Homo sapiens: one gene and its partners. The protein of the gene in region 1 interacts with the protein of each later gene in a biochemical or structural test. Each region holds a gene or a part of one and is shown in the gene's direction. Other genes may lie near its edges.

What was found.
Region 2: the proteins of EGLN2 (region 1) and HIF1A form a complex in vitro, tested with the Homo sapiens proteins (3 studies listed by BioGRID, with this or other methods).
Region 3: of the proteins of EGLN2 (region 1) and PRKCA, one has a biochemical effect on the other in vitro, tested with the Homo sapiens proteins (one study listed by BioGRID).
Region 4: the proteins of EGLN2 (region 1) and EPAS1 form a complex in vitro, tested with the Homo sapiens proteins (one study listed by BioGRID).

What each region holds. Positions count from the first base shown.
Region 1 is NC_000019.10:40,794,442-40,802,206, forward strand, and holds the start of EGLN2 (prolyl hydroxylase EGLN2), read left to right. Parts: upstream 1-4,749; 5' UTR 4,750-4,821; intron 4,822-5,080; exon of another isoform or gene 5,081-5,197; intron 5,198-5,897; 5' UTR 5,898-6,131; coding exon 6,132-6,974; intron 6,975-7,765. UniProt on the Homo sapiens protein: Prolyl hydroxylase that mediates hydroxylation of proline residues in target proteins, such as ATF4, IKBKB, CEP192 and HIF1A. Target proteins are preferentially recognized via a LXXLAP motif.
Region 2 is NC_000014.9:61,691,200-61,698,519, forward strand, and holds the start of HIF1A (hypoxia-inducible factor 1-alpha), read left to right. Parts: upstream 1-4,313; 5' UTR 4,314-4,605; coding exon 4,606-4,640; intron 4,641-6,512; exon of another isoform or gene 6,513-6,651; coding exon of another isoform or gene 6,652-6,755; intron 6,756-7,320.
Region 3 is NC_000017.11:66,298,338-66,305,625, forward strand, and holds the start of PRKCA (protein kinase C alpha type), read left to right. Parts: upstream 1-4,275; 5' UTR 4,276-4,514; coding exon 4,515-4,687; intron 4,688-7,288. UniProt on the Homo sapiens protein: Calcium-activated, phospholipid- and diacylglycerol (DAG)-dependent serine/threonine-protein kinase that is involved in positive and negative regulation of cell proliferation, apoptosis, differentiation, migration and adhesion, tumorigenesis, cardiac hypertrophy, angiogenesis, platelet function and inflammation, by directly phosphorylating targets such as RAF1, BCL2, CSPG4, TNNT2/CTNT, or activating signaling cascade involving MAPK1/3 (ERK1/2) and RAP1GAP.
Region 4 is NC_000002.12:46,377,406-46,384,425, forward strand, and holds part of EPAS1 (endothelial PAS domain-containing protein 1), read left to right. Parts: intron 1-488; coding exon 489-682; intron 683-1,251; coding exon 1,252-1,362; intron 1,363-2,821; coding exon 2,822-3,312; intron 3,313-4,190; coding exon 4,191-4,317; intron 4,318-4,569; coding exon 4,570-4,684; intron 4,685-5,019; coding exon 5,020-5,193; intron 5,194-7,020.

The sequences.
Region 1 (7,765 bases):
CTGGTCTTGAACTCCTGGGCCCAAGTGATCCTCTCTTGCCCTTGCCTCCCAAAGTGCTAGGATTATAGGTGTGAGCCACTGTGCCTGCCCAACCAATAGAATATTCTTATTATATATGATGCACTCTGGTATTTGCCGTTCTGTGCTATTCTGTTTGAATTTAAAAATTGGTCAAGACCCACCAAACTGATTTCCCCACCAAGGCAGTGACACACATTAGAATGACCTGGAGAATTTTAAAAGATACTGATGCCCAGGCCTCACCCTAGAGATTCTGAAGTGGTTTCAGGACTTTTTCTTAATTAAAAGATAAATAGAGATGAGGTCTCACTATGTTGCCCAGGCTGGTCTCAAACTCCTGGCCTCAAACGATTTCTCCCACCTTGGCCTCCCAAAGTGCTGGGATTAAAGACGTGTGCCAGGCTGGGCATGGTGGCTCACGCCTGTGATCCCAGCACTTTGGGGGGCTGAGGCAGGCGGATCACAAGGTCAGGAGATGAAGACCATCCTGGCTTGATCTGTAGATCAAGTGAAACCCCGTCTCTACTAAAAATACAAAAAAAAAAAAAAAAAAAAAATTAGCCAGGCGTGGTGGCAAGTGCCTGTAGTTCCAGCTACTCAGGAGGCTGAGGCAGGAGAATGGCGTGAACGCAGGAGGCGGAGCTTGCAGTGAGCCTAGATCGCGCCACTGCACTTCAGCCCAGGCAATAGAGCGAGGCTCCATCTCCAAAAAAAAAAAAAAAAAAAAAAGATGTGAGCCAGCCAGTTGCAGGATTTCTGGAAGCTCCCAGGTAATGCTATATACAACCAAAGTGAGAACCACTAACCTAACGTTGTCTCCCCAGCTTGGGGAACAGTGAAATGAGACTTAGAGCCAGGGTGATCCAGGAACATAGAGGGACACAGAAAGATACAAAGGCAGGTTCATTTTATTTATTTATTTATTTATTTATTTATTTATTTATTTAAATTTTTTGAGATGGAGTGTCCCTCTGTTGCCCGGGCTGGAGTGCAGTGGTGTGATCTTGGCTCACTGCAACCTCCGCCTCCTGGGTTCAAGTGATTCTCCTGCCTCAGCCTCCCAAGTAGCTGGGACTACAGGCACCTACCACCACGCCTGGCTAATTTTTGTATTTTTAGTAGAGACGGGGTTTCACCATTGGCCAGGGCGGTCTGAACTCCTGACCTTGTGATCTGCCTGTCTCGGCCTCCCAAAGTGCTGGGATTACAGGCGTGAGCCACCGTGCCTGGCCGATTTATTTATTTATTTATTTATTTATTTTGAGATGGAGTTTCGCTCTTGTTGCCCAGGTTGGAGTGCAATAGTGCAATGTCAGCTCACCGTAACTTCTGCCTCCTGGGTTTACAAGATTCTCCTGCCTCAGCCTACTGAGTAGCTGGGATTACAGGCATGTGCCACCACACCTGGCTAATTTTGTATTTTTAGTGGAGATGAGGTTTCTCCATGTTGGTCAGGCTGGTCTGGAACTCCCGACTTCAGGTGATCTGCCCGCCTCGGCCTCCCAAAGTGCTGGGATTACAGGCATGAGCCACCGCGCCCGGCCTATTTATTTTTTTGAGACAGTCTCACTCTGTTGCCTAGGCTGGAGTGCAGTGGCACAATCTTGGCTCACTGCAATCTCCACCTCTCAGGCTCAAGCGATGTTCCCACCTCAGCCCCCCAGGTAGCTGGGACTACTGGTGCATGCCACTACACCTGGCTAATGTTTGTATGTTTTTGTAGAGACGGGGTTTCGTGGTGTTGCCTAAGCTGGTCTCAAACTCCTGGGCTCAAGCATTCCTCCTGCCTTGGCTTCCCACAGTGCTGGGATTACAGGCGTGAGCCACTGCGTCCATCCAGATTCATGATATTTAGATGTTGAAATGTGGCTTTACAGACTCAGACAGCTCTCTGAGGCAAACAAAGAGGGAGATGCAGGTACCCTCAGCACAAGCCCCAAATTACCTGCAGGGGAGAGGCGGAAAATCAGACAATGTAGAAACCGGGAGAAGAAAGGTATGGACAGACCGATGCAGATAGGAGGGGAAGGAAATACCTGGAAATGAGATAGAGACCGGCTGGACAGACCCCGGGGACCCTGCAGGTCACCACACCCTTCTCTTTCAGCTCACCTGTTCTCCAGGACCAGCCCTGCTGGGGCCCAGGCCCAGGCTCTGAGAGGCCGTGTCCTAACCTGCCCTGGCCCCGGAGAAGCTACGTTGCCACCTGTCCCCCTTCCCTGGCCTGGTGGGGCCTGGCTTTGGGGCAAGACTGAGCCACGGGGGAAGGGGGAATCCCGTACCTGCTGCTGCTTCCTCTGTCTTGGCTAACGTCTGTCCCCCTGAACCCCTAACCATACCCCAAGAGCTCCCAAAGCCTGAGACCAGGGTCATTTGTCCCCAACTCCCCATCTGGCCCTGCTGTTGCTAGTACCTGTTATTTATTACCTGGAGGCCTGTCCAGCACCCACCCTACCCCCATAAAGCATTGTTTACACCTGTGTCTTGGCCTCCATTATTGTGAGATGGCAGGGAGATGGAAGAGGTCCCTGATGGAAGAATCATGTGTCATGGTGTTTGGGGGCCTTGTTTCTGTTTTTTTGTTGTTGTTGTTGAGATGGAGTTTCCTTCTTGTTGCCCAGGCTGGAGTGCAGTGGCGTGATCTTGGCTCACCACAACCTCCACCTCCCGGGTTCAAGCTATTCTCCTGCCTCAGCCTCCCGAGTAGCTGGGATTACAGGCATGTGCCACCACACTTGGCTAATTTTGTATTTTTAGTAGAGATGGAGTTTCTCCATGTTGGTCAAGGTTGGTCTCGAACTCCCAACCTCAGGTGATTCGCCCGCGCTGGCCTCCCAAAGTGCTGGAATTACAGGTGTGAGCCACTGGGCCTGGCCTTGGGGGCCTTGTTTCCTGATTGGACGTGGTGTGGGGTATACCAAGCATGATGACTCAGGTGCCTGTTGCGGAGGGAGGGAATTTGTTACTGTGTGGACAGTTTGTGACAATCTGTGTTCTAAGCTCACGTGTGTAAACACGCTGATGTCCCTGTGTTTGTGACATGTGTACATGTTTCCAGTACCTGCATATGGGATGATGTCTATAGGATATAATGTGTGCTGGTTGTGTGTGATGCTGACAGCCGTAACTGCTCTGTGGCCTTGGTCATTGTATTGGTGAGGCTGGTATTGTTTGGGACATCAAGGCCAGGGGATGGGAATTTGGACCTATAGGTGGGCCTCCGGTGTGTGCATGTCTGATGCCTGAGAGTCAGAGGCAGTGACTCACTACTGCGTGTGTGCCTGTGCATGTGTACCCCGAGGTCTGTGTGTGTTTTGGTGTGAATTTGGCTCCTTTTAAACACCCATGTGTGGCCAGGCGTGGTGGCTCATGCCTGTAATCCCAGCACTTCGGGAGGCCAAGGCAGATGGATCACTTGAGCCCAGGAGTTGGAGACTATAGCCTGGGCAACACAGAGAGACCCTATCTACAAAAATAAAAAACAGAAAAAGTTAGCCAGGTGTCGTGGTACACACCTGAAGTCCCAGCTATTCCGGAGGCTGAGGTGTGAGGATCACTTTAGTTGGGAGGTTGGGCCTGCAGTGAACTATGATCATGCCACAGCACTTCAGCCTGGGCAAAAGGGTAAGACCCCATCTCAAAAACAAAACTAAACTAGAAACACCCTTGTGTGGCCATGAACCCTGTGTGTGCCCTGAGGACTGCGGGCTTTTGTGCAATCCTCACGCATGTGTGGATACCAGTATGCATGCCCTTGTGCTCACGCGAACCGCCCTACGCCCTCAGGTGGCCTGCAGGGGACTGGTGCAGCCCCGAGGACACTCCCAGTTGCTCGTCGCCCTCCCATCTCCACGTCGGCCTTCACCGACCCGGCGGGAGCCTTGAGTCCCAGCTCTCCAGAGCAATGGTGGAGCGGGCAGGGCATTCAAAATGACCTTATCTCCTTAGTCTCCTAAAGTGTTCCCAGCTGGCCATGCAAATGTCTTCTCTGTGTAGCGTTCCGTGGATTTTTTTTTGTTTCATTTTTTAATTTTGTGTAAAGATAAGGTCTCACTCCGTTGCCCAGACTTTCCCTGGTTCTTTATTCTGATTCCCACAATCGTCCCGAGGGGGCAGGCCGGAGCGGGTCTTGAAAATACACATTTGCACATCCCTTCTAGTCCGCGTTCCCTTTTCTCAAGGGCAACCCGCACTTTTTTGCCTCCGTTATAAAAGATACTTATGTAAATTACTGACGTGCGAATTTACATACATTTCTCAACTAACTGCGTAGCCATTTCTCCGTCTCTCACCTCCGTTCCTGGACGGCGAGAAGGAGGAGGAGCTGACCATGTAAATGAAGTCACGCGCACCGCGCTGCCGAACTCGGTGCCCCGCGCTGGGCGGGGGGCGGGTAGGCCTGTCCATGTAAATCACATCATTTGCGTGCCCCGCCCCGCCGACGCCACTTGATTCCAACATGCAAGAAACGCCCCCTCCCAGACCCGGCCCCTCACACTGCGTTCCCCCTCCCGCGCAAAGGGGGCGGGGCGGAGGATGCAAATGAACCTCGTGTAGGCCACGGACCGCTGTTTCCTTTCTCCTTGGTAGGGGGGTTGTCCCGAACTTCCTCGCCCCGCTCCGCCCCGCCCCGCGCGGCTCGGGCCTGCGCAGGCGCCGTCCCCTCCGCGGGGCGCGGTCACGTGCCCACCGGGCGAGGCGGGGCGGGGCGTCGCGCGCGGTGGGGGCGGGGTATGGCGCGCTGTGCGGCGCAGGGCGGCTGGCACAAACGGCGGCGCCGGGGCCGGAGGAAAAAGCTCGGTGAGGAGGTCGCGGGGCGAGAAGGGAGCGGGAGGAGACTAAGCCGGAGCCGGGGCGCCGGCGCGAACCGGGCGGGGTGTGGGGGCGCGCGCCGGGGCCTGCCGGGGCGACCCCGGGAAGGGGGATGTGGGTGCGGCGCGGGGGAGGGGACGCGCGCCGGTTACGTTGGGTGCCGGCCGTTGTGGGGGTTGGGGTGGGGGCGGGGAGCGCGCGCCGGGCGGAGGCCGAGTGGAGGGGGAGGGGAGGGGGTCCGAGCGGCCCTTAGGCCCTGCCCCTGTCGCCTACTGCGCTCAGAAGGGGCCTCAGGGCCTGCCCCGGGTTGGGGGCGTTGGGGTGCCCTGGATGGGGGCACCTTTATCTCTCGTCCTGTCTCCGGGTGCGTGCACCCTCCTCCGTCCTTTCCTCTGTCGCCGCGGACCCTCTCCCCGAGGGCCCCTCCCGTCGGTCAGTCTCGGGACCTCCCTTCCGTCTGGGCGTGTGTCCGCCCCCGGCCGGCTTCCTCCCGTCGGGCTCGGGTCGACCCCACCGTCCCGCTCCGCCCCGGGTCCTCCCTCCCAGCTTCCCTCCGGTCTATTTTTCTGTCTCTGGGCCCCTCGTTCTCTTTGTTTTTGGACTCCCCAGTTTCCTCTGTCTTTTGACCCCCCCGCCCCCACCCTGACTCTCCCTGGAACCCCCACGTTTCTCGTTGTCTTTCTGGAACGCCGAGGCAGGTCCCTCCTATTTTCCAAACCCCCTCCTTTCCCACTCCTCCACACCACCCTTTTCTACTCCAGCCCTCCTTCTTCTGTCTTTGGTTACCGCGTCCCACAACCTGCACCACAGTCCTCTGTCTTAGGGTCATCTACCCAGCCCCTGGCCTCCAGCCTCTCCCTATCACTGCCTCTTATCTGTCAGCGGACTCCCGCACCTCCAGATTCTCAGGGTCCTCTCCCCGACTTGGCCTCAGGTTTTGGGGGGCCTCTATAGTCAAGTCTGTCCTGGTCGTCTTCCCCACTCCTGCCCATACCATCCCGGCTTTCCCCTGCCTGCCTGTCTCTAGTTTCTCTCACATCCCTTTTTTTTTTTCCTTTCTCTAGCCACCCTGAAGGGTCCCTTCCCAAGCCCTTAGGGACCGCAGAGGACTTGGGGACCAGCAAGCAACCCCCAGGGCACGAGAAGAGCTCTTGCTGTCTGCCCTGCCTCACCCTGCCCCACGCCAGGCCCGGTGGCCCCCAGCTGCATCAAGTGGAGGCGGAGGAGGAGGCGGAGGAGGGTGGCACCATGGGCCCGGGCGGTGCCCTCCATGCCCGGGGGATGAAGACACTGCTGCCATGGACAGCCCGTGCCAGCCGCAGCCCCTAAGTCAGGCTCTCCCTCAGTTACCAGGGTCTTCGTCAGAGCCCTTGGAGCCTGAGCCTGGCCGGGCCAGGATGGGAGTGGAGAGTTACCTGCCCTGTCCCCTGCTCCCCTCCTACCACTGTCCAGGAGTGCCTAGTGAGGCCTCGGCAGGGAGTGGGACCCCCAGAGCCACAGCCACCTCTACCACTGCCAGCCCTCTTCGGGACGGTTTTGGCGGGCAGGATGGTGGTGAGCTGCGGCCGCTGCAGAGTGAAGGCGCTGCAGCGCTGGTCACCAAGGGGTGCCAGCGATTGGCAGCCCAGGGCGCACGGCCTGAGGCCCCCAAACGGAAATGGGCCGAGGATGGTGGGGATGCCCCTTCACCCAGCAAACGGCCCTGGGCCAGGCAAGAGAACCAGGAGGCAGAGCGGGAGGGTGGCATGAGCTGCAGCTGCAGCAGTGGCAGTGGTGAGGCCAGTGCTGGGCTGATGGAGGAGGCGCTGCCCTCTGCGCCCGAGCGCCTGGCCCTGGACTATATCGTGCCCTGCATGCGGTACTACGGCATCTGCGTCAAGGACAGCTTCCTGGGGGCAGCACTGGGCGGTCGCGTGCTGGCCGAGGTGGAGGCCCTCAAACGGGGTGGGCGCCTGCGAGACGGGCAGCTAGTGAGCCAGAGGGCGATCCCGCCGCGCAGCATCCGTGGGGACCAGATTGCCTGGGTGGAAGGCCATGAACCAGGCTGTCGAAGCATTGGTGCCCTCATGGCCCATGTGGACGCCGTCATCCGCCACTGCGCAGGGCGGCTGGGCAGCTATGTCATCAACGGGCGCACCAAGGTAAGGCTAGGTGGGGGCCTCTTTGGAGGGGCTTTGCAGCACCCTGGTTTGCAGCATTCAGTGCTCTGAGCACAGTGGGTTTGGAGACAGGCTTCTGGGAGGTCACAGAAGGTTTAGGCAGTTCAGTGGAGTGGGTATGCTTACTTGTGGGGACTTGGGGGGGTCTTTATCCTCCCTACGGGCCTTAATGTGTGCACCTGATAAGCTAGGAGTTTGTCCTGGAGCCACAGTGGTTCTTTTTTTTTTTTTTTTTTTTTTCTTTTCTTTTTTTATTGATCATTCTTGGGTGTTTCTCGCAGAGGGGGATTTGGCAGGGTCACAGGACAATAGTGGAGGGAAGGTCAGCAGATAAACAAGTGAACAGAGGTCTCTGGTTTTCCTAGGCAGAGGACCCTGCGGCCTTCTGCGTGTTTGTGTCCCTGGGTACTTGAGATTAGGGAGTGGTGATGACTCTTAACGAGCATGCTGCCTTCAAGCATCGCCACAGTGGTTCTTGACTTTGCCAGGAACCCTCTTAAACTCATGAGAGCTGCTGACATTCACAGCGTGGACCTTGGTGGGGTTCATGGCCTCCTGGTGTCAGTCTGTGGCCCCAGACCAAGCACGGGGATGTAGATAGGCACACAGTTCACCTGGCCGTTCTCTGTTGCTGTCTGTCCCTGTCCACATCCTTCCCTGTGCTCCTGTCGTCCATCCCTGTTTGCTGGCCCATGTTTCTAGTCCATCCATCCTGTCTCCAAGGCAGGAGAAGCAGAAGGGGGAGGGTGGCTGTGATGAGTGAGCCCTGGGCT
Region 2 (7,320 bases), on another chromosome or scaffold:
CCTTCTCCCCTGTGGAAGGCTAGAGCTGACCAGAGTTGGTAATTTCCCTTCCTCCAGATTGGTTAGCCTTTGGTAGATTCATCTGGTTAGGCTCTGATAGAGAGTTTCCCTTGAGGCCAGGTCTTGTTAAGAAGAACAGAGAGCCCTGAGAGTATTTCACGATGGTTACTTACCCCTTCTCCCTGGCAAAAGCAAAGCAGATTTTTCTCAGATCTTTACAGTGAGAATCTGACAGGATTCACAGAGGTAAAACTGAGGTAAGTATTGAGGCCCCTCTCAGACTGAGCCTCCTTGGAGTTTTTTAACTCTCAAGCTAGTCTGCACTGAGCCTCCAGCAATTCCCCAATTACAGTTTAGTGTTCCTACTGATGTTGGCTCCAGCTGTGAAACTAGCTTCAGCTTCTGGCTTCTGTGCCTGGGCTCTGCTCCTGGTAAACTGTGATTCTCTGAAAAGCTGTGATTCTCTGTATCTATCTGTCTGTCTCTCTAGTTTTTAGGGCAGTGGTTTTTCCTGTGACCTCAATTCTCTGGTGGATCTAAGAAGAGTTACTGATTTCAGTTTGCTTAGCTTTTTTTTTTCTTGTTGTGAGGATGGGAGTGACAACTTCCAAGCTCTTTACATGTTGAACAGGAAACTGAAAGCCCCTTGGTGTTCCTTTGTAAATTCATCTTAAAAATATTTATCATAATTGAAAAGTGCTAATATCAAATTTTCAGTCTGTTTATATTCCCCCTAAACTCAGATAAATATACATTTTATTTTGTGTGTCTGTGTGTGTGGGTTTTGTTGTTGTTTGTTTTTTGTGTTTTTTTTTAAGATATAGGGTCTTGCTCTGTCAAGGCTGGAGTGCAGTGGCACAATCGTACATCTCTGCAGCCTCGAACTCCTGGGAGAAAGTGATCCTCCCGCTTTAGCCTTCAGAGTAGCTACGACTACAGGCACTAACCACCAAGCCCAGCTAATTTTTAAAATTTTTTGTAGAGATGGGAGTTTCACTTTGTTGCCCAGGCTGGTCTCAAACTCTTGGCCTCAAGTGATCCTCCTGCCTCAGCCTCCCAAAATGTTGGAATCACAGATACTTTGTGTCTTGATTCTTGAAAGGAAAAAACAAAGATTTTTAATGCCTCTTATCTTGTACGCACTTTCCTTCCAAACAATACCCTTTTGCTGCCATTGTTCTCGTTATGAATAGCTTAAAGAAAAAGAAACAACTAAGGGTAGTAATAGGCCAGGAATCACTTACTGAATACTAGGTCTTCTTGTATAGTTTGATACCCTATAAATTGTGTGCATCTGATGCATTTCACCTTCAAAAGGCTCAATGCTCTGTATTATTTAGTAGTAATCAAAATTTCAAGTTTTACTTAACCTCCTGATTCACTGCCCAATTTCCTAATAAATACGGGCTAAGGGTCAATGGGGTCATTTGCAAGTAATCTTGTAGTCTACTCAGAAAGTTCTGCAAAGTTAGAAAGTGATTAAATGACTGTTTGTTAAGATATACTTACATAGTAATAACCTAAATGCATTTGTTAAGTGGTTGTAGAGAGAGGGATTTAAAATTTTATCCTATATGAAATTTTCCTTTTTGGTGTCTGTTATTTAATAGGATTGTTTGAATTAGGGGATACTATTTGGTGCCTTTGTAACTATATGAAAATTAGTTGGTTGAATATTACTGCTTTCCATGTTCATATTTATATTTGTATAGACATATATATATATACACATATACTACTTTCCTTTCCATTTTCATATTTATATTTGTGTATACACATATACATAAACATATATTTTATACATTTTTGAAAAGGAAAATTAACTTAAGGGCATATTTAATGAATATTCAAAAATTTTTTTGCTGATCAAATTATCATTCTGCTTTAAACTTTTGAAATGATCCAAAAAAATTTTAAATGACTTAGATTTACTGTTACAAAATGCTTGTCTTTTGATGTCACAAACATTATATACTATAATCACTGGCCAGAGATAATTGCTATAAGTATAATGAAAAGGGAAATGATGGAAGATCTCTGCAGCTATCCTCATAAATGAGGGTGGGAACACGATGGGCAGTTCCAAAGTTGAAAATAGAGAATATATGTGGATTTATATTAACATAATTGGTATTCTTGGATAGTTAAAAATGGCTAAACTGTAGGAGAAGCCCGAGTAATTACTGTTAACAGAGGAATAAATTTGAGGGCAATAATAATGATGATAGGCCAGGCACTGTGGCTCATGCCTGTAATCCCAGCACTTTGGGAACCCGAGGCGAGCGGACCACCTGAGGTCAGGAGTTCGAGAGCAGCCTGGCCAACATGGTGAAACCTCGTCTCTACTAAAAATAGAAAAATTATCCGAGTGTGGTGGTGCGTGCCTGTAATCCCAGCTACTTGGGAGGCTGAGGCAGGAGAATCACTTGTACCTGGGAGGCGGAGTTGCAGTGAGCCGAAATCGCGCCACTGCGCTCCAGCCTGTGGGCCAGAGCGAGACTCCGCCTCAGAATAATAATAATGATAATAATAATAACGCCACCAACAATACTAAGAGCTAACATTTACTGAGTGCTTACTATGCACCAGATATTGTTCTAAGTATACATTTATTATCTCATTTAACCATCCATAATACTGTGGTATAGACACTTTTATATCCATTTTATAAATAAGTAAACTGAGTTATGGAGAGATTAAACGACTTGCCAGTAAGATTCAAAGCCTGTGTACAAGCTCACGCTTGATTCTGGAGCCAGTGTTCTTAACACAGTATCTTGAGAATGTTAAACTAAAAAGTTTTTAATTTACAGTATTCTTTCCACAATTAAAAAAGAAATTATGAGTAATTATTTTTAGTTCTTTCTTCTCTTCAGGCATTTCCCATGGTTCTTTTCAAGACATAATACATATCATTTAGTGTTGTAGATCTGAAAAAACAAAAGTAGCGTGAAGATCAAAAATTTTCTAAAGAGACGGAGTCTCGCTACGTTCCCTAGGCTGGAACACCCAGGCTTCTCCAGCCTCACACCTCTGAGTAGCTGGAACCACCCTGTCCGCTAAGGTCAATGTTTAATCGTATCTTTGTAGGTCTACTGACCAGTTAAAAAGAGGTGCTGTATACATTGGTTGTTGTCTTGTCAGAGTTTGATGCTTCTATATAGACCATTGTTTTTACATGCTAATACAATTGAAAGCCACTACAGATATTTATATTTACAACCCAAAGCTAGGTTTTAACAAGAAACTCATAAGGCAAAGGTGAGAAGTAAAATAATTTAGCGCCAAGTGGAGATATATGTGCAATGCTACTTTGTTGGGCTCAAAACATATTTTTCTTTTAGAAGACTGACAGGCTTGAAGTTTATGCCTCCAAAGACAAAAGTGATTATGTTTTGTTTAGTAGCTTGCAAAGTTGCCAAAGGCCATTTTTTCTACTCTTTCCCTGAAATTGGTTTATATGCTTATTAAAGTCATTTATACCTATTTGCAAATGCTTAACATAGTTTCAGATTTTAAGATTTCCCTGCAACTTTATTTCCCTTGAAGTTTACAGCAACAGGAGTTCATTTTTATTTTTAATTGCATTTATTCAGTAAGTAAACTCCGCCACAGAAAAACTTAGTAGACAAGGTGAGTTCCCCTGTGCTCCGTGGCAAAGAGTGCGGTGGGTGACATTGACCCATGGTTAGGTAATCTGGTAAGGAAAGACCCCGTTGTAACACATCTGAGCAACGAGACCAAAGGAAGGGCTTGCTGCCACGAGGCGAAGTCTGCTTTTTTGAACAGAGAGCCCAGCAGAGTTGGGCGGCAATCGTGCCCAGCACTGAGGCCGAGGAGAAAGAGAGCAGGAGCATTACATTACTGCACCAAGAGTAGGAAAATATGATGCATGTTTGGGACCAGGCAACCGAAATCCCTTCTCAGCAGCGCCTCCCAAAGCCGGGCACCGCCTTCCTTCGGAGAAGGCGCAGAGTCCCCAGACTCGGGCTGAGCCGCACCCCCATCTCCTTTCTCTTTCCTCCGCCGCTAAACACAGACGAGCACGTGAGCGTCGCAGCCCGTCCCAGCTGTGCCTCAGCTGACCGCCTCCTGATTGGCTGAGAGCGGCGTGGGCTGGGGTGGGGACTTGCCGCCTGCGTCGCTCGCCATTGGATCTCGAGGAACCCGCCTCCACCTCAGGTGAGGCGGGCTTGCGGGAGCGCGCGCCGGCCTGGGCAGGCGAGCGGGCGCGCTCCCGCCCCCTCTCCCCTCCCCGCGCGCCCGAGCGCGCCTCCGCCCTTGCCCGCCCCCTGACGCTGCCTCAGCTCCTCAGTGCACAGTGCTGCCTCGTCTGAGGGGACAGGAGGATCACCCTCTTCGTCGCTTCGGCCAGTGTGTCGGGCTGGGCCCTGACAAGCCACCTGAGGAGAGGCTCGGAGCCGGGCCCGGACCCCGGCGATTGCCGCCCGCTTCTCTCTAGTCTCACGAGGGGTTTCCCGCCTCGCACCCCCACCTCTGGACTTGCCTTTCCTTCTCTTCTCCGCGTGTGGAGGGAGCCAGCGCTTAGGCCGGAGCGAGCCTGGGGGCCGCCCGCCGTGAAGACATCGCGGGGACCGATTCACCATGGAGGGCGCCGGCGGCGCGAACGACAAGAAAAAGTAAGCCCATTCCCTCGGCCCGCCGCCTTCTCCCCCGGCGACCCCGCCCGCCTGCCCGCCCTGGGCTCCTGGGCCGGCCTCGGCGTTAATGGGATTGGGGGGGGCAGCCTTTTTGTTTCTGCTGCTGCTCCCCTCCCCTCTCTTCCCCCAACCTCGCCGGCCGGGCTCCCCCGCTGTCCACGTCGCCATCTTGTCGTGGGGGGTGGGAGACGCCTCGAAAGTGCTTTCAGGGGCCGGGGTCTGAGCCCTGCTTGCCCTCCCCGCCGGCCGTGGGGGCCTCGCGCCGCCCACCTACCCGCCTCAAAAACCCAGCCTGCTCTGTGGCCCCATCCGGAGGGGACTTTACCCAGCCTGAAAACCCCGGGAAGAGAAATGAGCTGCAGCTCGGTAGCCGCGGTTTGCACCCGGAGCTTCCGCTCCTTCCCGCCCCCATCCTCTCCAGTTCCATTGAAAACTCGGCCCTGGGGCGGACCCTGCACGCTGGTCCTGGCTTTCCAGTGGACTTGGGGCCTTGAGTTCCCGACTGAGGGACTCGCGTGGTCGGATGCGATCTTGTCCTGTAGTTGTCCAGCCGTCGCGGGTGTCTTTGCCTTTGTGCATTAGGGATTTGCCGCGATGGCCTTAAGATGCGAACTTTTTAGTTTGCACGTGCAGGTTTTGTTTCGTTTTAATCGCCTTGAAAAACTTGCCTAGACTGAGAGTCAGAGTAATGGGAATTTAGGGAAATGGCAACATTTTAAAGAGAACTTCAGAATTGGATACTTGAGTTCATATCACCTGTCACGAGAACGCAGATATTATAAATGAATATATGCCTCATTCATTCTTCAAATAATGAAAATGTAGGGGCTGGTTAAATTTAGGCAGTTTTAATGATACTGAAAAAAGTATATGATGAGTGAATGAAATGCGGCACTAAAATGTTGCAAAAATTTTCGAACTCTGTCTCATTTTCCTGAAATTGAAGTATATTAAAGGAAAACCGTCAACATATATCTAAAGTAAGTAATCACTCGGTTAGAACTTAATGCAAGTTTTATAAATCACCTTGAAGTTTGAGTCTAAGGGGTACATTAGAGATTAAGAATTGTGAGTTGGACCAGTGGTGTTAAGAGCGGACTCCCCCATCCCCCAACACACACACAATTTTGCCCACTTTGGCATTTTAACTTTTAAGGAAATCACTTAAGGAATTGAAGATTTAGAGTAAGAGTTTTGGTTAGTAGACTGGCTTTGCTGTTAAATCCTTCCACTCTTCTGGCAGAGAGATTAATTTCCCTAATCAGTATCAGCAGAAGATAAACTTGTTTATATTCCTGCTGTTTTGTAGATCCCTTCTCCTGGTCCTTCTTCAATAGAATATTAAATTCTTAGTTTGTATACAGCAGAGAAGGTCACTTATAAAATTCAAAAAGTGAGCAAACAGGTCTAGATTAATTCCAAGAGTTACCAGGAATTAATTGCAGTTTATTTTGCGGAGGTGATTACAGTGCTTTTGATGAAATGATAAAGCTGCTATATTGTAAACCTAAGGCAGATTACCTCTGTGTAGTGCCAGTTTTCTATCCTTATTATATATTGAATCATACTTAATACAATGCATTAAATTATGTACCACTTTTTTTATATACAGTATCGAACTCATTGTTTTGCCATTCATCCGTTCAGAATATCAGAAGCAGTTTTGAAACGAATTAATAAATTAGCTACTGTTCATCAGCCCCAATTCTAAATAAGCTCTTAGATTTTCCTCAGCCCATCTGTTACTTTCAAAATTTTCTCATTTGAAAACTTGGCAACCTTGGATTGGATGGATTCATATTTCTTAGTATAGAAGTTCTTGATATAACTGAAAAATTAAGTTAAACACTTAATAAGTGGTGGTTACTCAGCACTTTTAGATGCTGTTTATAATAGATGACCTTTTCTAACTAATTTACAGTTTTTTGAAAGATAACTGAGAGGTTGAGGGACGGAGATTTTCTTCAAGCAATTTTTTTTTTCATTTTAAATGAGCTCCCAATGTCGGAGTTTGGAAAACAAATTTGTCTTTTTAAAAGAAGGTCTAGGAAACTCAAAACCTGAAGAATTGGAAGAAATCAGAATAGAAAATGGGTATGGTTATGATACTGTAGATTTAACGCAGGACATTTCATGTTGTTCCTAGTTATAGGGGCTGAACTTATTTAATAGCACGTGCATTTTGATTTTTAGATTTTTAAGGGAATGTCAAGAGAGTAATGATTCTGTTTCAGGCTTCAGGCCAGACTCCTTCAGAGTTTTCCAAAACAAATAATTACTGAATCATTAAAGTAAAATTTCTGAGAATAGATATTCCTTAATTTCCTTCATTAACTTTGGCCATTAAAAGTCAAGAAGCTCTCTCATTTATTAGCAAACTTTTCTCCTTATGATTCTATTTTGATTGTCCTTTTGTTTGAGGAAGCAGCATATGGTGGTTAAGAGCATAGGATCTAGAGGCAGATACCTCTGAGTTAAGGGTCCCAGCCCTTCACTTGTGAGCTTGAGCAAGTTACTGAATGCCTCTGAGCCTCTTTCCTCCTTTTGAAATGATGATAAGAATAGCAGCCATCTGAGCAGTTATTGTAAAGGTTAAATGAGATAATGCTTGTGAAGCACTTAGCCCATTGCAGGAGTCTTGATGACACTGTGTACTTGA
Region 3 (7,288 bases), on another chromosome or scaffold:
CATATGCCTTCATGTACACGTGCGTTTATATATGCAAGATACATTTATAGAAGTGGAAGTGCTAGGATTACATTTATAAAATGTATCAACCTTTTAAAAGTACATGCATCAAAATGTTTGATACATTTTTAAATGACAATTATTGCCAAATTGCTCTGTATCATGTCTGTGTGCGACAATTTACAATCCCGCTAATGATGTATGAAACCATTTGATTCTGTACACCCTTAATGAAACAGTGTGTTCCTTACACTTTTTATGTGTGCCCAACTCTTAGGTCACAGTGGGGTTTCAATATGATCTTAATTTACATTTATCTTTTTATGAGACATGTTGAGAATTTTATCATAGGAACTATTTGTATTTCCTTTTCTGAGAACTATCTGTTCACGACATTTGCCATTATTTTTTCTTGGGCTTGTTATTCTTTTTGTTCTTGATTAATATCTGGTGGGATATTTATTCCTACTTTTTTTTTCATTTGGACTGTTGAATTAGCTTGTTTACTTCTAAAAAAATTCTACTTTCATTGGGCTAAGTTACATTTATGGTTTAATTAAGAAAAACTGACATTTCAATGTCTCTTCCTGTATGAGAACAGGGCATATCTTTCCATTTATTCAAGACATAAAGTGGGTTTAAACAGGTACATTTTTAAAAGATGGCTACTTGTGGAGTCCAAATTGAGAAGGGCAAGAACGAAAGCAGGAAGACCAATTAAGTGGTCCTGCAGTGGCCCAGGAAAGAGATGATAGTGCTTAGGCTAGGGTTGGGGGTGGATAGATTTGAGATCTGTCCTGGAGGAAGCACCAATTAAACTTTCTCATGGATTGGATATGGGAGTAAGACCAAGGGAAGAATAAGGATGATGCCTAGGTTTTCAACTTGAGCCATTGAGGGACTAGTGATGCTGTGAGATACAGGAGACAGAAAGAGATCCTAGAAGAAGGCTTGCTTAGAAGCAAAGTCCCCAAGCCTCAAACTCCAGGGAGGCTGCCCACAGAAGCTCTTTCAGTGGAGACACAACCAACTGGAATCAATCAACTGTAATCACAACCAACCAGGGCCTTCATTAACCCATGTGGTACCTTGGTGTGAATTTAAAAATGGTGGCTTTTCTGGGAAGACAGAGGCCCAAAGGTACACTTGGCAAGGAGTATGCGAGTTGAGTTTTAGCCCCTACTTAGTCTCTTGACTGGGAGCTCCTGTGCTATGAGCAACCTGCAGGACCAGACCTGGAAGCCTTGGAACTAACCTCTGACTGGGGCATCTGACTCATCCACTCCTATACAGTACTACCCTGCTCCTTAAACTTACCCCAAAATGGCCCCTGACTCTAGTGTTCTGCTACTCAGGTAGATCCTCACCTCTACCTGTTTAGAGATCTGCCAGTTACAGTGAATCTGACTGCTGCCTGCTTACGCATTTCGGCAGTTGCCTTGCCTCTCCTAAACCTTGAATATGGTGCATAGAATAAAATATAAGCCTTAAGTCATCTTGGTTACCATAAATCTCAGAATGATGCTTTTTCGATACTTATGCAATTCCTATTGCCCAATTTGAAAATGTCCTGGTTCATTTGAAAACAGTCCAGTTAGCTGCATAGAGCAGCAAGCTGTAAATTGTATCTGAAAGACCGCTGGCTTCAAACCATTGGGATTCTGAGTCATCTGTTTGGTGGTCTGACTTTGATCCCAGCCTCCAGCCTCTGGGTCCCCCTGGTCTAGGTGACACCTCTCCAAACAGTGTTGAGCTTACTCCTCAAAGGCAGAGGACAGAAGCGGATTCTGAAAAACTCTGCGTTCAGTCTGACATTCCCTGTTCTTTTCCCGCACCTTCCCCATGAAATAGCAGACTCGAAAATAAAATTTACTCATGCCCTCATGACTGACTGACTACCCCCAACCCAGGGGGTTCTCCCGTCCTTAATCTCCTCCATTTTAGTTATACCATGGGGACTTCAGGTAGGCTGCAGGAGTAGATGCTGGCCCACATTTCCATCAGTCCTTGCTAGGGACAGTGTTACACTGCTTGGTAATTGATAAATCCCCACTCTGGGTGCACAGTCCCCTCTCCCCAACTGAGCTAAGATGTGGGCTATTGATGCTTTCATGCCCAGCCCAACCATGAATCAGTTGACTTCCAGTCAATCATTCCTCCTCGTACCCACCAGGAACAACACTAACAACTGAGGCAAGAATGCAAAGCCACAACCTAAAAGAAAACAGACACATTGTTCCATCTGATCTACTGACAGCTAAGACAGTCACTCCATGGAGTACACAGGAGATTCGCAGGCTGCTGCCAGGGCTCATTCTGTTCTTGTCTTTCCTATGACTTTACTCAGGATTCCATTATCAGCAACTTCACCCTCCAGCTCTCTCCATCCTCCTATGAAAGCCTCAGGGACATAGAAATAAGCTTGTCTTTGTAAAATGTGCCAGGATCTCCGTCTTAGATAAAAGACGACTATGAGAAAAGAAATTATTTCATTCCACTATGTTCCATTTGATTTCTGCTTTCAAGCAATAAACCACCATGGCTTGAGATGCTTCTAGTGTTTCATGGAGAATTGGGACTATTTCCCCAACATGCCCTGCTCTTCATTCCTCTTTGCTTCTTCCCTTTTTGACTCCTTGGACCCGAGGGGCGACCATGAGTGGCGAAATTTCTGACCAGCTAGAATACCAGGCAGGTGCAGGCTCTTGAAGCACCAAGACTGGCTCAAGAGATTGTAAATGGATCAGTCAAGTGCATGCACCACTGACGGCCAGTCAGGAGAGCTTCCATTTGTTAAAAATATAAAGGACATTCCTATCATCAAGCATCACAATTAGGCAATCTCAAAGAAAACAATATTAGCTCTACTTGGCCTATGTTACATGCTCTAAGAAAGTATTTTAGAAAAGTTTTTTTTTTCAACATAAATTTATTGAAGGATCAAACGTGTTCTCTTTCTTGGTCTCTTTAGCTCGTAAAGTCGTTTTGGGGATTTCGTGAATCTGGCAAATAAAACAAAACACCAATGAAACGCTGAGAAATGATTATTTCCCTTATGTATTTTAGCGGCCTCCAGGCAGACCTGATAAATATTCAGCGAGTGATTAGCTGGTGCATCCCCACCTGCGTCCTTTGCATAGCCATGCCCGCTACTCTTTCACAGGCAGTTTTACTTGGTAAGTTACAAACGTACTGGCTGCACTCTGCACCTGACAGTATTGCAGTAATTAGCTTGGGATGCAAAATGATTTCTAAATTAAGGTCCTGGACTTGTAAAATCAAGAAAGCCTGATAATCAACATCGTCGCTCTGGTGGCCATTGAATAACGGGATAAATACCTAAGACAAGTCCTTTAACCATCCCACGTGGTGATAAATGCCCGACGTACAAATTAAAAGTCTCTACCACACGCAGGTGAAATAAGGTATAGGTCAAGAAGAGAAGGTAGGGGAAAGGGTCAATGCTTAATTATTTAAAAATCGCTCTCTTCCTCCTGTAGGAAGGTCTAGGGGCTAGGTCTTTTAGTGCACACGTGATGAAAGTGACATTTTGGCCAGGTGAAACCTCAAGCTGGTACAGGCAGCTAAAACACGGGCGTCGTGCCCTGGAGACACCGGGGGTCCTGAGGATGGGGAAGGGGCTCCCTGCTGCGGGTGCTGAGGGGTTAGGAGGTGAGCACCGGGCGGGAGGCTCCGGGGCAGGGGCTGCGCGTGGAGCCCACTCCCGGACGCGGGCTCCTCTCGGCCCGGCACGGGTGGCGCAGGACTCCGAGCCCGTCGACAAGAGAGAGAGCGGGAGTGGGAGAAGGAAGACCGGGAGAGGAGGAGGCCGGGCGGCAAGAGCGGAAGAAGAGGAGGAGAACTGAGGCGGAGGAGGGCGAGAGGGAGGAGAGCCGGGCGCAGGAAGGGGAGGAAAGAAAAAGGCGGCGGAGGAGCGCGGACCCGCCACTCCCGGCCTCCTCCCCCGCATCCCCACTCGGGCCGGCCCTCCCCCGGCCGCCGCCGCCGCCGCCGCCGCCGCCGCCGCCGCCGCCGCCGCCTCCCCTTGCCCAGTGTTCCCAGCACCGCAAGGCACTCGCTGCCTCCTCCGCACTCGGTCCGGTCCGCTCAGCGCCGCCGCCGCCGCACCCTCGCCGCACCCCCGCGCGCGCCCGGCCCGCGCGCCCCCGCCGCTCGTCCTCGCGGCCTCGCGCTCGGGGCATGCGCGGTGGGCGGTGCCGCTCCGGGCCGCCTCTGCCGCCGCGAGTAGGAAGCGCGAGCGCCGGGCACCGGGCTGTCAGTGAGCCTGGGGCCAGCGGGCGAGCCAGCGGCTCCGGCTCCCGCTCCCGCTCCGCGCAGCACCAGCCCGACTCTCCCCGGCCCCCGCCGCGCCCCCTCGCCGCGACCTCGGCCACCGGCCCGCGCCCCGCGCCCGGGGTCGCCCCGAGCCCGCACCTCTCCCCCGCCGCCCCCGCCCACCCGGCCCTCCGCGGCCGCAGCTCCCCGGCGGAGGCAAGAGGTGGTTGGGGGGGACCATGGCTGACGTTTTCCCGGGCAACGACTCCACGGCGTCTCAGGACGTGGCCAACCGCTTCGCCCGCAAAGGGGCGCTGAGGCAGAAGAACGTGCACGAGGTGAAGGACCACAAATTCATCGCGCGCTTCTTCAAGCAGCCCACCTTCTGCAGCCACTGCACCGACTTCATCTGGTAGGTGCCGGGCCGGGCACTCCTGCCCCGCTCCTCCCCGCCTCCGGGTCCCGGCACCCGGCGCTCCGGCGCGTCCGCCCCGGGGCTGGCTCACTCCGATAACTTGGAACCGGCGGGAGTCCGAACTCTTCGCCCGGAGTGACACGCGCGCCCGGCCCTGACACCGGCGGGCAGGACTCCCGGGACGTCGCCGTCCCGCCACACACACCCCCTGGCGCGAGAGGGAGGCTGGCCCCGTACGGTGGCGAAGGGGATCCCTCTCCGGGCCGGGCCCCTCACCTCCCCGGGCGCGCCCACCCGCACGCACCCAGCGGAGCGGCCGCTTGCCGGGGTGTGAGCCCAGGGGACAGGGGAGGAGGAGAGGCCCTAAGGGGGCAAAGGTTCCCGGAGAAACGCGCCCCGGAGTAACGGGGGAGCGGCGGCGATTGCACTGCGCGCGGTCCAAGTTGCTGGCGAGCCAGGCTGGGCGCGTTCGGGGTGGGGGGGTTGTGTTTGTGCTTCCCATCGGGCTGGACTGCGCTGGCATCTTGGGCCCCTGCCTACTGTAGGCTGCATCTACTGGGCACGGAGAGACTGACTTTTCTGAGTGAGCAGAGAGAGAGAGAGCAAACTGTTGAAAGCTTGCAGTGGGGGAGGGGGAGTTCTAGCAGGCAAATGGCACAAGGGCAGAGGGACTCATTTAAAATAGACCCTGTCGGCCAGGCGCGGTGGCTCACGCCTGTAATCCCAGCACTTTGGGAGGCCGAGGCAGGCGGATCACCTAAGGTCAGTAGTTCGAGACCAGCCTGGCAAACATGGTGAAACCCCGTCTACTAAAAATACAAAATTAGCCGGGCGTGGTGGCACACGCCTGTAATCCCAGCTACTCGGGAGGCTGAGACGGGAGACTCGCTTGAACCCGGGAGGCGGAGGCTGCAGTGAGCCGAGATCGGGCCACTGCACTCCAGCCTGGGTGAGACAGAGCGAGATTCCGTCTCAAAAAAAATGAAACAGACCCTGTCAACTCGAGATTAGACCTGTAACCCTGTTGATGAGGGCAGAGGCCTTATTTAAGAAAAATAATATAAGGGCCAGAGGTCAGAGATCAGGTAATCGCCAATGAATTCAGGCATTCTTAACTCGGAGGGTCCCTGGGGGCTTATGGAGAATCGATACATAGAAGGGCTTCAGGGGTCTCTGAACCCTGTAAAACTGAGGGAAATTGTGTTTGTGAATCTTTTTCCTGGTGAGAGAATTACAGCTTTCATCTGATCCTCAAAAGGTGTGTGACCCTTCTTCCCAGATCCCCGTCACCACACAAAAGTTTTGAAAGCTGGAACTAAAGGAGCTCTAGGTCCTCTAGTTAGAGCAGCAGTAGTTTGGTTTTTCTTTTAAGTTGCCCGACGTCCTGACTCTTCTACCTCTTCTTTGTGGTGTAGGAAGTTCCGGGCAAGACAGAGCTATGGCTAGGGCTTCTTAGCTCCCTCTCCTTCTAGGCCAGGGGGAGCTGCACAGGGTGGCAGTCACGGAGTGAATCCTGCCACCAGCCAGCTGTGTGGCACAGGTATCTTGGGCCACTAGGGTGAGCATAGTATGGATGGCTCTGTCGGAATCCATCACACCTGGGGAAAAACATCCCAAAGGGCAGGTCCCATGATCGTGGTGCGAATAAGGTGTTTAATTTTTCCTTTCCTTTTTAGACATCTGCTCCCAAGTACACTTTTATGAAAAGCACAGCCACCTCTATGAGTGATTTCCACTGTCTAGTCGGCATATGAAGCGACTGTGCTCAAAGGAGTAGGTAGTCGTAGATAAGGCTATTTAAAATAAAAATTTCGGAGCATCAGGGCAAAGAGAATATTGCATTTGGTTAAGAGGAGGTCAGCTGTGAGAGTCCATTAAAAGGGAACAGACTGCTGGTGACTTTTGCAGGAAGTAGGAGAGTTAGAAAGGGACTTGCAGCATACTGAGGCTAGCTATTGTCTTTCCACTATCAGTTGCCCTTGAAGGATCAGCCCCTGGTGAGCTGAAGAGGCGCTCAGGTCACCACCAGTATTGTGAAGTGGAAAATGCCCCCCTGAGGATCCCTGCAGCACTCTGCATTTAATTGTAAACCAACCAATTGGAAGTCCCAGGAAACCATCCACGGGGATTGTCTTTTTCAGTTTGCTTTCATTATTGCTTCTACGGGGTCCTTGATTTACACGTTTATTTCAATATTAAATCACTGATATTTTTAAGCGAAATGTTTAGAGTTAGATATGGTTTTTAGTAGGGGGGATGACTCTAAGTTAATTTTAAAAGTATGTGAAATACTTTGTACATGAAACATTCTATGTGAAGCAAGAGATTATGACTCTCAACCTTCCGAAGAAATTTTAATGCAGTTCATTCTGGTAGAACAATACCTGCAATTGAACGTCCACGTCAGGGTTCTCTGCTTACAGAGTAAATTCTCTAAAGTCATGTACAAGAACAAAATAGCCTCCCTATGTGCTTTGAATGCTATTGGTTCTCAGTAGAAATTAGATCGTGGTCATCTCAAATGCAAACAATAGGAATTATATTTTCTAAGATCTGGTTTCTTAAGCCAACATTAAATGTTAAAAGTGATGCCGTTTG
Region 4 (7,020 bases), on another chromosome or scaffold:
GCCGGAAGAGTGGTGCTCACCCTGGACTGTGTCAGCCCCTTTTAGATGGGTTCTACAGCGGCCACGTGAGGATTGCAGCTAAAGAGAATCTGAAACGCAGCGGGCCCTTGGCCAGTAGGTCTCGCGGCTTGTTTTGTGGCAGTACTGAGGCAAATAGCTCAATAGCCCAATTCTCCTCTCCCTCTCATACCTTCCTTGTCTACCCTTCCGGATCTGTTCCTCAGGGAAGAGTGGCTCCTAATATATTTAGTCTCTGAAAATTAAATGTCCCAGGAGACTGTTCCGTTTAAAGGGAGTCTCTACGTTGACTCATAGCCAGAGTCAAAGACCCATGTGTTCCAGCTGAGCCCCAGGGTGTTGGGGGGGCCTAGCCCCAGGCATGCCTTCCAGACCCTCTTAGGGCCTTCTCTGCGGTTTTTGGGCCTCCTCTGCCTTGGGGTGAGCCCGATGGTTGTGGGTGTTCACCTCCCAGGCCCTTGTCTCCACAGGGAATCAGAACTTCGAGGAGTCCTCAGCCTATGGCAAGGCCATCCTGCCCCCGAGCCAGCCATGGGCCACGGAGTTGAGGAGCCACAGCACCCAGAGCGAGGCTGGGAGCCTGCCTGCCTTCACCGTGCCCCAGGCAGCTGCCCCGGGCAGCACCACCCCCAGTGCCACCAGCAGCAGCAGCAGCTGCTCCACGGTGAGCAGCCCTCTTATGGCGAGGACACAGAGAGGGCTCCGTATGTATGACTGCTGCCAGATGGCTGAAGGGACATTTGGGACAGGTACTGTCCTTCTCAGGTTATCACAGAGCCCCCTAGAGTGGCCGTGACACTTACCTACCAGGTATCAGAGCTGTTTTCTTCCTTTTAGTGTTCATCCCCCAACTCCATTGAAATAAGCTCCTTGAAGGGCTTTGAGCCCCCAGCTCAGTCCCCATACAGGGCAGTAACATCCCGTATGTGGCACAGAGCTGCACAGTTTGCACAGCCCTGCTGGCCACAGCCTGTATCCTGTTTGGTCCTCAAGACAGGACAACCTGTGAAGCGACAGTAGCCTCATTTTATGATGAGGAGACTGGAATTTAGAGAGGTTGATGAATTGACCTAATTCATACAGCTTGTTAATTAGCAGCCCCTCTACAAATAGTTGTGTGGTGGAATGGAATTGAACCTTTGGGTCCAGGAAGGTATTTCTTCTTCCATGCTGGACTTCTGGGGAGACCAGTGCCATATCTTTGACTCTGTCCCCCTCCTTCCTGGCCCCTAGCCCAATAGCCCTGAAGACTATTACACATCTTTGGATAACGACCTGAAGATTGAAGTGATTGAGAAGCTCTTCGCCATGGACACAGAGGCCAAGGACCAATGCAGTACCCAGGTAGATGGCTGTGGAGATCAGGCTAGGGTGTGTGCCTGCTGTCTGGTGGACAGCAAAGGCTCACATCCATTCTTGTAGCCTCATCCCTTTGTTGTAAAGAGCAGTGGAGACGTTTGGCCAAGGCCCAGGTCCCCTAAAGAGGTAGGGGTACAGGGTAATGGAGCCTGTGGTCACCCCCTCCTCCCACTGTCAAATCCAGCTCTTCCAGCATATGTGTCTCCTACTTAGATAGCTTTCTTAGCACACATGAAAACCGAAATGATACCACTGCACCTTTCTTTAAACAGGCCCTACATTTAACAAGCATAGCCAGATGTATAAAACATGTATAAACATAGGGGACAATTAATCCCTTTATAAACACATTCATCTTGTGATTTTAAAAAAATAATCATTTTTATATGAAATGCACTTTAAAATAAATAACATCTGTTTGACAATTTTTCATTTACATAAAACTTTTCAGGAACACATTTATTACATAAGGCCAATGTTCTTGCAAAAACTATGTAAACAAGGATAAGGTAGAGGGAGGGGTACGTGTTTTACAAAACCCCAGGGAAAACCATTAATCCCCCATTTGTCTTAGTCTTGAGTTCAACCAGATTTCTGCCTTGCCACTTAGTTTGTTTCTTGATCCTACTTGGCACAAATCCCAGCTACTCTGCAAAACATGCCCAATTTTAGCTTTTCTATCACCCTCCCTCCTCAGCACTCCTGTAGTATATATCATGTGGCACTTAATCACAGCTATCTGCTTCTGCTCCTTAAAGATTGCTTAGTATTGCAGTCATTAGTCAGCTGACACCCACTGAGGGTGTCAGTCTCTGAAGTTAGAAACTGTTTTCCGCATCTGCTTGTATTCCCCTGCTTGTATCATGCGTCCGTCATGATACTGCCACCCTAAGGGATGATCTGAGTATCTGCTGATTGGAACCAAAGTCTCTGTCCCTGGGGTCTGGCTGTTAGGCTGTTACTCTGCGAGAGTCCACAGATGGACCTGGGCACTTACTGCTTGCTTAGGCCCGTGCCAGCTTACAGGAGGGAGAAGAGGACAAAAAAAAGCCACAGTGTGCACCACAGGCCTAAGCATTGTAGGACAAGGATAACCACCACAGGCTGGAGTAGGCAGGGCTGACTCTGTGGAAGAGGGGCTGCCTCGGCTTCAAGAGAGAAGGCGGGCTCCGGACAGGTGGGATGGGGAGAGGAGAACATTTCTCAATGTGCAGGGTGAAGAGGGGATAAACATGGGGGAAGGCTGGTACATGATACAAGGTCGTGTACATGACACAGCCAAGTCTGAGGTTTTCCTGATAGGCCCTCGGGAGCCAGTGGAGGCGTTTGAGCAGCACTGTGAAACAGTGCTTGAGATGAATGGCTCTGCAGGAGCTGAGTTGGAATAGTGTTTGTGAGGTCGTACCAACCCCCTTGCCTCTTTGCCGGTGCTGTCTCCCCTCAGACGGATTTCAATGAGCTGGACTTGGAGACACTGGCACCCTATATCCCCATGGACGGGGAAGACTTCCAGCTAAGCCCCATCTGCCCCGAGGAGCGGCTCTTGGCGGAGAACCCACAGTCCACCCCCCAGCACTGCTTCAGTGCCATGACAAACATCTTCCAGCCACTGGCCCCTGTAGCCCCGCACAGTCCCTTCCTCCTGGACAAGTTTCAGCAGCAGCTGGAGAGCAAGAAGACAGAGCCCGAGCACCGGCCCATGTCCTCCATCTTCTTTGATGCCGGAAGCAAAGCATCCCTGCCACCGTGCTGTGGCCAGGCCAGCACCCCTCTCTCTTCCATGGGGGGCAGATCCAATACCCAGTGGCCCCCAGATCCACCATTACATTTTGGGCCCACAAAGTGGGCCGTCGGGGATCAGCGCACAGAGTTCTTGGGAGCAGCGCCGTTGGGGCCCCCTGTCTCTCCACCCCATGTCTCCACCTTCAAGACAAGGTAAGTGGCAGATACTCAGCTGTACCAGCAGGGCCGAACCGAGAGGCACCCACTAGTAAGATAGCTGGACCCCCAGGGAGGCCCCTGCCCCTCTCCCCAGCCATCTGATACCCCATTTAGCCCTTCTCTGAGCTCAGACTTTGGGGAATCACCTCAAGCCATGTGAGGCCTAGTGTAGGATGGGTTTTTATCTGGGCTGCCACTGAGGGCAGGCAAAGAAGTGGCTTGTTGAGAGCCCTGTACCTCAGTGTCTCCCTTCGGACCACCACCAGAGTGCCTTTCGTATCTCGGTTCATCATCTGAGCCACACAGAAAATTGAGTGATGATTTTCCCTGGTTGAAAACAGCAAAAAGATACCCCTGCCTCCCCTTGCCTTTTGGCTGCCCCCGGGTCCTCGCCACTGCAGCCTCTCCCAGCTGTGCCTAGGCTCCAGAAATGCCTTCCCATCTCCCCAGCATGCTCATTTCACCAGCTGCGAGCTCACTGGGCTAAGGCACAGGGGTTGGTACATGACCTGCCACTCCCAGGGGCCGCTGGTACTTGCCCTTTATAGAGCAGCCAAACTAGTTTTCAGTGGGAGCAAAAGGCAGAGGAGAGACATGGGCAGAAGAAACCCTCCTAAGGACTAACATTGCCCAGCCAGGCAGCCATCCCCCAGACCAGGAGGCTTGAGCCCTTCAGCATCTTATAGCTGAGGAAGGAGACAGAGCTCGAGCTCGGCCTGCAGGTGCACAGCCTGCCTCTGAGACTCTGCCTTTTGGGTCTTTGAGTCATCACAGGCATCAGCATTGGGACTGGAAGGGCCCCTAAGATGAGAAGGCACTGAGTGGCATGTGGCTCCAGACTCCCTCATAGCCTGCTCTCTCGGGCTTGGCAGGTCTGCAAAGGGTTTTGGGGCTCGAGGCCCAGACGTGCTGAGTCCGGCCATGGTAGCCCTCTCCAACAAGCTGAAGCTGAAGCGACAGCTGGAGTATGAAGAGCAAGCCTTCCAGGACCTGAGCGGGGTGAGTCATCCCCACTGGCCACAGGGGCCTCTCCATAGCCCTTAGGGAACCCAGGGCTGCTGAGAGGGGTGGGGATGTGGCCCTTCCAAGCCAGCATAGCCCTTAGGGAACCCAGGGCTGCTGAGAGGGGTGGGGATGTGGCCCTTCCAAGCCAGCAAGTGCCAGCCCTGTTCCAGGCCCACCCAACCCACCCAGTCTGGGGACCTGGTTCTCTGGCCATTTCCCCTTTCCATCTGCCCTTCTTACTCCCAGGGGGACCCACCTGGTGGCAGCACCTCACATTTGATGTGGAAACGGATGAAGAACCTCAGGGGTGGGAGCTGCCCTTTGATGCCGGACAAGCCACTGAGCGCAAATGTACCCAATGGTGAGCAGCGGCCACAGGCCTGGGCCTCCTGGGGGTTCTGGTGGAAGGACTGGGGCTCGGGAGCCCATCCTGGTTCTTCCATTCACCACAGGCCGTACCTGCCTCTCTGAGCCTTGTTAGAATGGGGCGATGTCCTCTGTCTCTCCCGCAGTCCCACACACCCAACTTTTCCATCTCCACTCTGACTTAGATGATGCCATCAGAGGGTCCTGAAGGTTGGCTGTAGTTCTGGTGACTCTGAGCACCTTTTATAAAGGAAAGGGATGCTAGGGCTTCCTGGCCTCTCCCCTCCCTCAGGCCAATGCTACCGTCACTCTCTGACTTTGGTCTTTCAGATAAGTTCACCCAAAACCCCATGAGGGGCCTGGGCCATCCCCTGAGACATCTGCCGCTGCCACAGCCTCCATCTGCCATCAGTCCCGGGGAGAACAGCAAGAGCAGGTTCCCCCCACAGTGCTACGCCACCCAGTACCAGGACTACAGCCTGTCGTCAGCCCACAAGGTGTCAGGTGGGTGTGCCCAGGATCTGTCACCCCCATCCCAGGATTCGATGCCAGGGGAAGCCCACGTCTACTTTTTTTCCAGCGTCTGCACAGTGCCAGGCACAGGGAGGTGCTTGACTTGAAGTCACCTATACAGGGCTCAGGTCTCCTTGGATTTAGGGAACCTCCTCACAAGTTCCTTGTGACATCAGTGATCAGGCCCCCCAGTGGGTGGGTCTGAGACACAGCTAAAAAACTCAAACTCAGGCTAGAATACTGAAGGAAAGAATGCAGACCACTACCGACTGCCCAAAGAGGACTGAACACTGAACACTGGGTTGGCGACCCCCAGAACACTGTACCACTGTTGACAGGAGCACTTTCAGAAGAAAGAGCAGGCGGCCACAGTGGTGAGGGCCTGTTGAAGAAGAGAAGAGAAAGTTCAGAGAGAGAGAGTTGGGAAGCGGTCTGGGCAGAGGCAGGGGATCTCCCGTCTATGCAAGGATGAGCTTGCTGCGTGGAGAAGGGAGTGCTCCTTCCCTGGGGCTTTAGGGAGAACCCTCCCATGATCAGGTGCCATCCAGGGCTCTTTCCACCCTGAGAATCCCGGAGCCTTGCCCCTTCCTCAGTTCTTCATGTGGATGTGTTTTGGGGTGTCACTCTGAGTTCAGGCAGGTGCTGAGAACATGCCAAAACTTCCTTCAGGTAGAACAGCCTGGAAAGCTCTGGTAGGCCCACCCCACTGGACTTGGTTCAACTGCAGGCACCAATGCCTGCCTTCAACCCTGGGCCACCTTCATCTTGACAGTATCTTGTGAAACATATATGTCTTCATGAGGTTTGTTTGGCCTGAAAATAATTCGTGGTTTATGGAAAAACATACCAGGCCCCTGTTCTAAAAGGCAATTTCCTCAGCAATAGAGTTTGGGGAAGGTTATAGTTCTGTGCTTCAGAGTCCAGGCTGTAGAAACACCAGACAGCCCTGGCTTAAATTCTGGCTCTGCTGTTGAGTTCAGGGGCTGGTATATATTTATGTGCAGTAAGAGGTAGCCAGCACTATTCTTCCTGTTATGTGAAGCCCACGAATTACCTTGAATATTGAAATCAAGGGAAAATCATATTCTTTTCAAAAGAGTTGAATCATATCAAACTCTTTTCTGACCATGAATAAGAGAAGTTAGCAAGGGATGGTGAGCAGGTATCCATTGATACTGTCCACAGGAGCAGTCAAGCTGGGGAGGCAGGCATGGACCCCAGCAAGGATCTGAGCTAGGAGGTGCAGGAGGCAATGGCCACTGGAACGAGGCTCTGCAGATAAGGGAAGGTGGGTGGGCATCTCCCATCGGAGGGGCAGAATGCAGGGCTTCCAGGCTCTCTGCTGCCACCTAAGCCTTTCCTCCTTGGGATGGGGGCCTGTGTGTGTGCTGCGAGTGTCCCCCCTGCCACTCCCTGGTCTGCCTCCTCGGCAAGAGAATAGCACAGAGGCAAGAAGAAAGGACTGCTGAGGGTGGTGACCAGAAACTGGATTTTCAGACTGTTGAATCTTGAGGCAGTCTGTGTTTGCATCTGTATGTATGTGTGTGTTCTGCATGTTCTGTGTATGTGAGCATAGGTGCCAGGTGGTTCAGCCTTTCCTCCCTGCTGCCAGGAGGCATGGGGGTCAGCAACCCCAGGCTCTTCCTGAAGCTTCCACATACCTGTGCTGCAGCCCGCACCTCACGCTTTCCTCTTTCTTGGGTCTCAGCACCCCACCTGAGGCAGTGGTTCTGGAGGCAGACACGTTCCCCGGGCATGCAGCAGGCCGTGGGACAGACACCACTGAAGGAGCAGAGTGAAATTAGGGCTGCTCTATTG